Linked DNA regions of Homo sapiens. The protein of the gene in region 1 purifies or fractionates together with the protein of each later gene. This does not show direct contact. Each region holds a gene or a part of one and is shown on either strand. Other genes may lie near its edges.

Region 1 (3,322 bases):
ACACGCATGAGACCCTAGTAACCAGAAGCAAAGCTGGCAAAACTGTCTGCAGGAACAGAGAGGAAGGTAGAAAATTAGAGAAAAAAGGAGTGAAGCAACTTAGTGGCTCCTGACCCCTCCCAGATCTCCCTTCTGGGAACCCACTCCCCTATTAGGGAGATTTTCTCAGACAGTTCCTGCAGCTCCCAGGCTCTGCAGGGGCTAGAACCAACCACAGAAACAAGACCAAGGCACTGCTTCTCAAGAAGAAACTGACCTCATGCACTGTCTGAGTTACCTCAGCTAGAGAGGGTGAAAATCATCAGTTATCATCAGGGCAACAAATTGCTTTCTCCTAGTTCATCCTGGACTTACAATATGAAAGAGACATTTCCCAGCCCAACAGACAATACATAATTCCAATTAGCAAAGACCTCCAGGGTTGAGTGGACTCCTAGTGTTTTTTTGTTTTGTTTTGTTTTTTTATGACACGACTGCACGATGTGGATCTGGTCCTGCCTATGTGGTTGTTCTCAGGTACAGGAATGTGTCTAAGCATGGCCTCCAAAGGTCCCTTGGAAACCCCTGGCTGGTAGGGAACCCGCACTGTGCCATCAGCTACAGTCCACAAAGGTAAATGAACAGATGCCACCAGGAAATGAGGATGGACTGGCTCTGTGTGATCATAAGCTCAGAGCATCAGGGAAATGGTCATTTGAAACTAAGAAAACAGATTCAAATTATTCTGAGAAAACCGACTATTCACAGACTCGTGTCCCAGGTTTCAGAACCCGAAAATCTCACTCCTGATCAAAGGTTGCTGCTGCTGCTGCTGCTGCTGCTACTGCTATATGTGTGTGTGTATGTGCGTGCGCGGGTGCACACGCATGTGTGCGTGTGTGTGTGTGTGCGTGTGTGTGGTGCTGAAGAAGTGGAGGTTGCTTGGCCTTCTCTACTGGGTGTGGCCCTGATGAACTCACTGAGTGCTGAGGCTGGCTACAATGTCCTATCAGAGGGGAAGTAATACCACAGGAGCACATCAAGACTACAAACATAAAGAACCATGGACACTGATTTCATCCAAGTTCTACAGGGAGTGAACAAAGAAAAATAAATAAACAAAAGAAAGAAAAGAAAAATAGCCCTTTGTAGTAAAGGGCATGCTGGGAAGGCAAGAGCCAGAGCCGCCTCCCCAGAGCATGCTGGGAGGAGGGGCACCAGAGCCGCCTCTCTAGAGCATGCTGGGAGGATGGGCACCAGAGCCGCCTCCCCAGAGCGTGCTGGGAGGATGGGCACCAGAGCCGCCTCTCTAGAGCATGCTGGGAGACGGACACCAGTACATCTCCAAGGACTGCACTTCCCCCGACTCCCACCCCATTCCCTCACCCACCCCCAACCCGGAGACTAGAGGAAAGTCTGTCCAAAGATGACTGTGGAATAGGGAATGCCATGGTTCTCTGCAGGTCCCCCACACTATGGGGGGTTAAGTCAGCAAGTAGGGAAAACAGTCAAGACGAGGAGATGGAGAAACAGAGAGGCAGGAGAGAAACAGGGGGCTGACAAAGATGGAGGGGCCATTGTGTTGCCGGAGGACGAGGGGCTGCTAGCCGGAGGCATTGATGTACAGCTGGCTTTTGAGGATGTAGTCGATGACCGGCTGGGACAGGTAATCCACAACATGGCCGTCCCCATGCTGCAGGGCCAGCCTGCACAAGAAGAGATGACAATCAGATGGACATCCACACCCAAAGCAAGTCAGGAGGACTGGCATGCCCCTGTCTCCCCAGCACCCCATTTGTAGCCTTTTCTCAGGTTGAGTAAATAGTTCTGTATTAGGAAAGGCCCTCTTGCCTCCACAACTCCTTCCCCACCTTGGTGACATCATTCATCGTGGTTCTGCCACTTCCTAGGTGAGAGGCCTTGGGAAAGTTATTTAAGCCCCTCTGTTCTTCAGTTTTTTTCCTGTAAAATGAGGGTAATATCTGGGCCCCTCTCATTTAGTTATTCAAAGGATTAAATGAGTCATTATGCAAAGCACTTAGAAGAGTGCCAGACACACAGTGGGCATCTAATGTATTCACTATTCTTTTTTCTCAAATAAATTGTATTGTGTATATTTAAGTCATACAATCTGATGTTGTAAGATACACATATATTATCATCATATAATATAGTATATCTATGTTATATTACATATTTATTATATATTTTATAATTTATATATTATACTATATTATATTATTTATATAATAGTGTTAATATTATATTATATTATATTATTTATATAAGTGTTAATATTATATTATTTATATAATATAGTTTAATGGTTACTGTAGTGGACCAAATTAATATTCATATATCCATCATCTCACTCAGATATGTATTTGTTCTTCTTGTGGCGAGAATAGCTATAATCTACTAATTTAGCAAAAACCCTAAATATAATACACTATTATTAGCTGTCATCCTCATGTCACACATTAGATCTTTCAACTTGTTTGTCCTACATATTTGCTACTTTGTATCCTTTGACCTGTATCTCACCACTTTCTGCCCTCCACACTTGACCCTGGTAATCATGTTTTATTCTCTATCTGTATGTTTAAGATTCCATATATATTCCTACATATTTGCTGCTTTGTATCCTTTGATCTATATCTCCCCACTTTCAGCCCTCCACACTTGACCCTGGTAATCATTGTTTTATTCTCTATCTGTGTATTTAAGATTCCACATATAAGTGAAATCATGCAATATTTTTATTTCTGTGTCTGGCTTATGTCACTTGGCAGAATGTCTTCCAGGTCTAGCCAAGTTGTGGCAAGTGGTAGGATCTCCTTTTTTAAGTCGAATAATGTTCCACTTCCGTGTGTGTGTGTGTGTGTGTGTGTGTGTGTGTGTGTGTGTATGTGTGTGTGTAAGAACACATTTTCTTTATCTATTCATCCATTGATGGACGTCTAGGTTGTTTCCACATCTTGGCTACTGTGAATAATGCTACAATGAACTTGGAAATGCAGATACCTTTACAAGGTGGTGATTTCATTTTCTTTGGGTATATACCCAGAAGAGGGATTGCTGGGTCATATGACAGTTCCGTTTTTAATCTCTTTAGGAACCTCTATTCTGTTTTCTATAACGGTTGTACCAATCTACATTCCCACCAACAGTGTACAAGGGTTCCCTTTCTCCACACCCTCATCGACATTTGTTATCTCTTATCTTTTTGATAATAGCTATTCTAATAGGTGTGAGGTAGAATCTCATAATGCCTTTAATTTTTATTTCCCTGGTGATTAGTAATGTTGCGCATCTTTTTATGCACCTGTTAGCAATTTTTATG
Region 2 (3,500 bases), on another chromosome or scaffold:
GACTTGACCTGACGTCTGTCTGGTCCCTTTTCTCCCTTCGGCTCTGATTCCACCTCCTGCCTTCCCATCCCAGCTGCAGGAGCGGGGCCCTACAAAGGCAGCAGTAGCCCAGAACATTCAACCTGGTCCCTCCCTCTGGACCTGGTCACCCCCCTGTCCCCACCCTCAGCAGGCAGCATCTGCCCAGCGTCACGTGCACCCTCTCAGTTAACCCTTTGGTGAATCTGGTTGGGCAACCACACCCAGTGGCCCCCAGAAGAGGCTCAGAGAGAGTGTGTTCTTGCCCAAGGGCATGCAGCCAGGAAGAGCAGAGCCAGAGTTTGAACCTGGCTCAAAATAGCCCAGTCTCCCAAAGTCAGGTCCCAGGTGACCTAGGAGGTGTGGCGGGCAGGCCACCAGGCTCATGGGGCCAGAGCACAGGCTGTGGGAAAGTCCGTGTGGAAGGCACCTTCCCCCAGCCTCAGTGGCTAGGAGGTGCCAGTGGGCGTGGCGTCTTCCTCCCTCTTGGGGCTCAGCTGTAGCCCTGGCCTTGCCCCTGGTTCGCTGAGTGACCTCAGGCAGGGCATCTCCTTCTCTGGGCTTCGCTGGTCCTCTGGCCCATCCAGCACCCCACTGGCCCGTCCCCCTCTGCCCTGACCCGGGAGAGCCTGCACCCCATAACCTCAGGCGCTGCCTCAGCCAGGGAGCCAGCCTGGCCCCAGTGTCCCTGACCTGTTCTCCAGCGGCCTGCAGCCTGCTGCCTGGCTGGTCTCTCCTCCCTTGGGGCGCAGAGGGCAGGGAGCACTGGCTAGCCGAGAGCAGGACAATGTCCCTATTGATTCGGGTCTCCTCACTCCTGCTTAGAAGCCTGACAGTGGCCCTGGCCCCTGGGCTGTGGGAACTGACAGCATTTACCTAGGGGTGGCTGTGCCTGTGTCTCCTGTGGACCAATCTCCACCCTGCTCTTTGGGAGACTGAGGTGGGAGGATTGTTTGAGGCCAGGAGTTCAAGACCTACCTAGGCAACACAGCAAGGCACTCTGCAAAAAATCAAAACAAACTTTTTTTGAAATTAAAAAAAAACAAAACCCTAAGTCAGATCCCATCCCTGCTCTTCTCAGGAGTCCTTGCCTGGCTGCCTGGCCCCCTCACCTTGCCCACTCTGCTTCTTGCTAAACAGGAGCAGAGCAAGCGCACAGCCACCTCGGGGCCTTTGCAGCCGCCAGGGCCTCTGCCCAAAGTATGCCGCCTCCCAGTACCCACGACTTGCTTGTTCCTTGACTTCAGGTCACTGCTCCAATGTGACCGCCGCCTGGAGACCTGCACTGACCGCTTTGTAAAAACAGCACACACACACATGCTCATGTGGATGTATACATGTGCACACCTGTGCACGCCCACAGCCACACGCTCCAGCAGTCTCCACCCCCACCCTGCTCCATGATTTCCCTAGCACAGCCACGTCCTAATGGAGCCGTCAGCGTTCTCACTTTCACATGGAACGACTGCCCCCTGCAAGGTCGGCCTCAGGGCCGGTCCCTCTGTTTGGCACAGAGACAGCACCTCACACAGGAAGCACGCACTGAACATGGAGTGAGTGAGTGAACGAATGAATGAAAATGAATGAATGAGTTGTGGAAGCAGGCCCTGCCTGGAGGAGGCTGTGCCCTCCTGCCAACTCTGGGAATCCTGGCCCACCCTGACCCCACCCACTTCCTGCAGTCAGCCTTCGAGTCGGAGGTGTCTGAGGTTGCCATCAGCCAGGGCGAGGTCACCCTGGCCCTCAGGAACCTCCGGGCCTGGATGAAGGACGAGCGTGTGCCCAAGAACCTGGTGAGCCGGCCGGGCTGAGGCGGGCAGGGGGCTCAGGGGATATTTGCTCCCACAGGGTGGCCCCTCTGGGTGGGAGCTGGCTGCTGAGGGGCCGGGGTGCTGAGCACTTAATTTCATCCCCGGCTCCCGGCCCAGGCCACGCAGCTGGACTCCGCCTTCATCCGGAAGGAGCCCTTTGGCCTGGTCCTCATCATTGCGCCCTGGAACTATCCGCTGAACCTGACGCTGGTGCCCCTCGTGGGAGCCCTCGCTGCAGGTGAGAGCTGGGCCTGCCCCTTCCGGTCACCCTTCTCCGCTCGAGGCCTCAGGGCCACCCATGGATCCCAGGAGGACATGGGAGAACTGGCCCAGGTGGCAAAGAGGACTGTCTGGTCCACCGTCCCCGGGCTGTGTGGCCCTGGGCCCGTCATGTTACCTCTCTGAACCAGGTTCTGCATCTGAAAGTGGGTGAGGCTGATGCCTGCCCTGCAGGTGTGTGGAGACCAGGAGCTGGCTACGCCTCCTCCAGCTCTCTCCCTGCACTGCCCTGCAGGGAACTGTGTGGTGCTGAAGCCATCGGAGATTAGCAAGAACGTCGAGAAGATCCTGGCCGAGGTGCTGCCCCAATACGTGGACCAGGTGAGCAGGGCTGCCGGGCAGGTAGAGCGGGAACAGGCAAGGCTCAAGGGCTGGGCAGCCCCTGGCATGGAAGGGCCTGTCAGTCAGACCCGAGTCCCCACCTCAATCCTGCCTCTTCTGAGTTGTGTAAACTTGACCAAGTCACCGCCCCTGTCAGCCTCAGTTTCCCTCTGAGGAGCAGCGAGGGCAGCCTGTTGCCCAGGGGTTCCGTGTCTGCCTCCACCTGGCCCTGGCATCAGCCCCTCCAGCGCCAGCTGGACTCCAAGCTGGGCCTGCCAATGCCAGCCAACCTTGGGGAGCTCCCTTCTCCCCACTTTGCCTCCACCCAACCCTCCTAGAGCCCTGGCTGGGTCAGGCCAGGCGGGGTGGAGGCAGGGCAGGGTCCAGGCAGGGCGGGCTGCTCCCTTGTGTTCTCGGAGCTGGGGTCCCAGAAGGAGCCTCACCCATCCCGCCTTGCAGAGCTGCTTTGCTGTGGTGCTGGGCGGGCCCCAGGAGACGGGGCAGCTGCTAGAGCACAGGTTCGACTACATCTTCTTCACAGGTGAGGCCGGGACGAGGGTCGGGACAGGCTGGGGTCGGGGAGGACAGCTGCTCAGGGGTCCTGTCCCTAACTCTGGGAGTCCACAGGGAGACTGAATTCTCCTCTCTCTCTCTCTCTGGACCAGGCTGGGAGCAGTCCTGGACCCCCAGGACCCCTTAGGAAGGGATGGAGTCCCATGTCCAGGGCCAGCCCACTGTGCCAACCACAGCGTCAGGAACCATAGCCTCTGCCCCCACTGTCCCCAGACCCTCATACGTGACCCTGCTGCCCCCCAGGCTCTTAGACACCACCCTACTGGTGCCCACAGCCCTCTCTGCAGGCAGATGAGGGACTGGGCCTCAGTGTCCTGCCCAGGGTCACCCTGCTGGCCAGGATGGGGACAGGCTGGAATGTGCACACAAGCCCTTGGAGAAATCCACGCCAGAGGTCACTTTTTTTTTCTTTTTTTTTGAGACAGAGTCTTGCTCTGTCACCCAGGCAGTGGCACAATCTTGGCACAATCTTGGCTCACTGCAACCTCTGCGCCTCCT

What was found.
Region 2: the proteins of NMNAT2 (region 1) and ALDH3B1 purify together in Homo sapiens (affinity purification with mass spectrometry; one large-scale study listed by BioGRID and IntAct). This does not show direct contact.

Annotation. Positions count from the first base shown.
Region 1 is NC_000001.11:183,251,059-183,254,380, forward strand, and holds part of NMNAT2 (nicotinamide/nicotinic acid mononucleotide adenylyltransferase 2), read right to left. Parts: intron 1,686-3,322; coding exon 1,583-1,685; 3' UTR 1-1,582.
Region 2 is NC_000011.10:68,016,827-68,020,326, forward strand, and holds part of ALDH3B1 (aldehyde dehydrogenase family 3 member B1), read left to right. Parts: intron 1-1,700; coding exon 1,701-1,811; intron 1,812-1,946; coding exon 1,947-2,067; intron 2,068-2,343; coding exon 2,344-2,429; intron 2,430-2,888; coding exon 2,889-2,970; intron 2,971-3,500. UniProt on the Homo sapiens protein: Oxidizes medium and long chain saturated and unsaturated fatty aldehydes generated in the plasma membrane into non-toxic fatty acids. May have a protective role against the cytotoxicity induced by lipid peroxidation.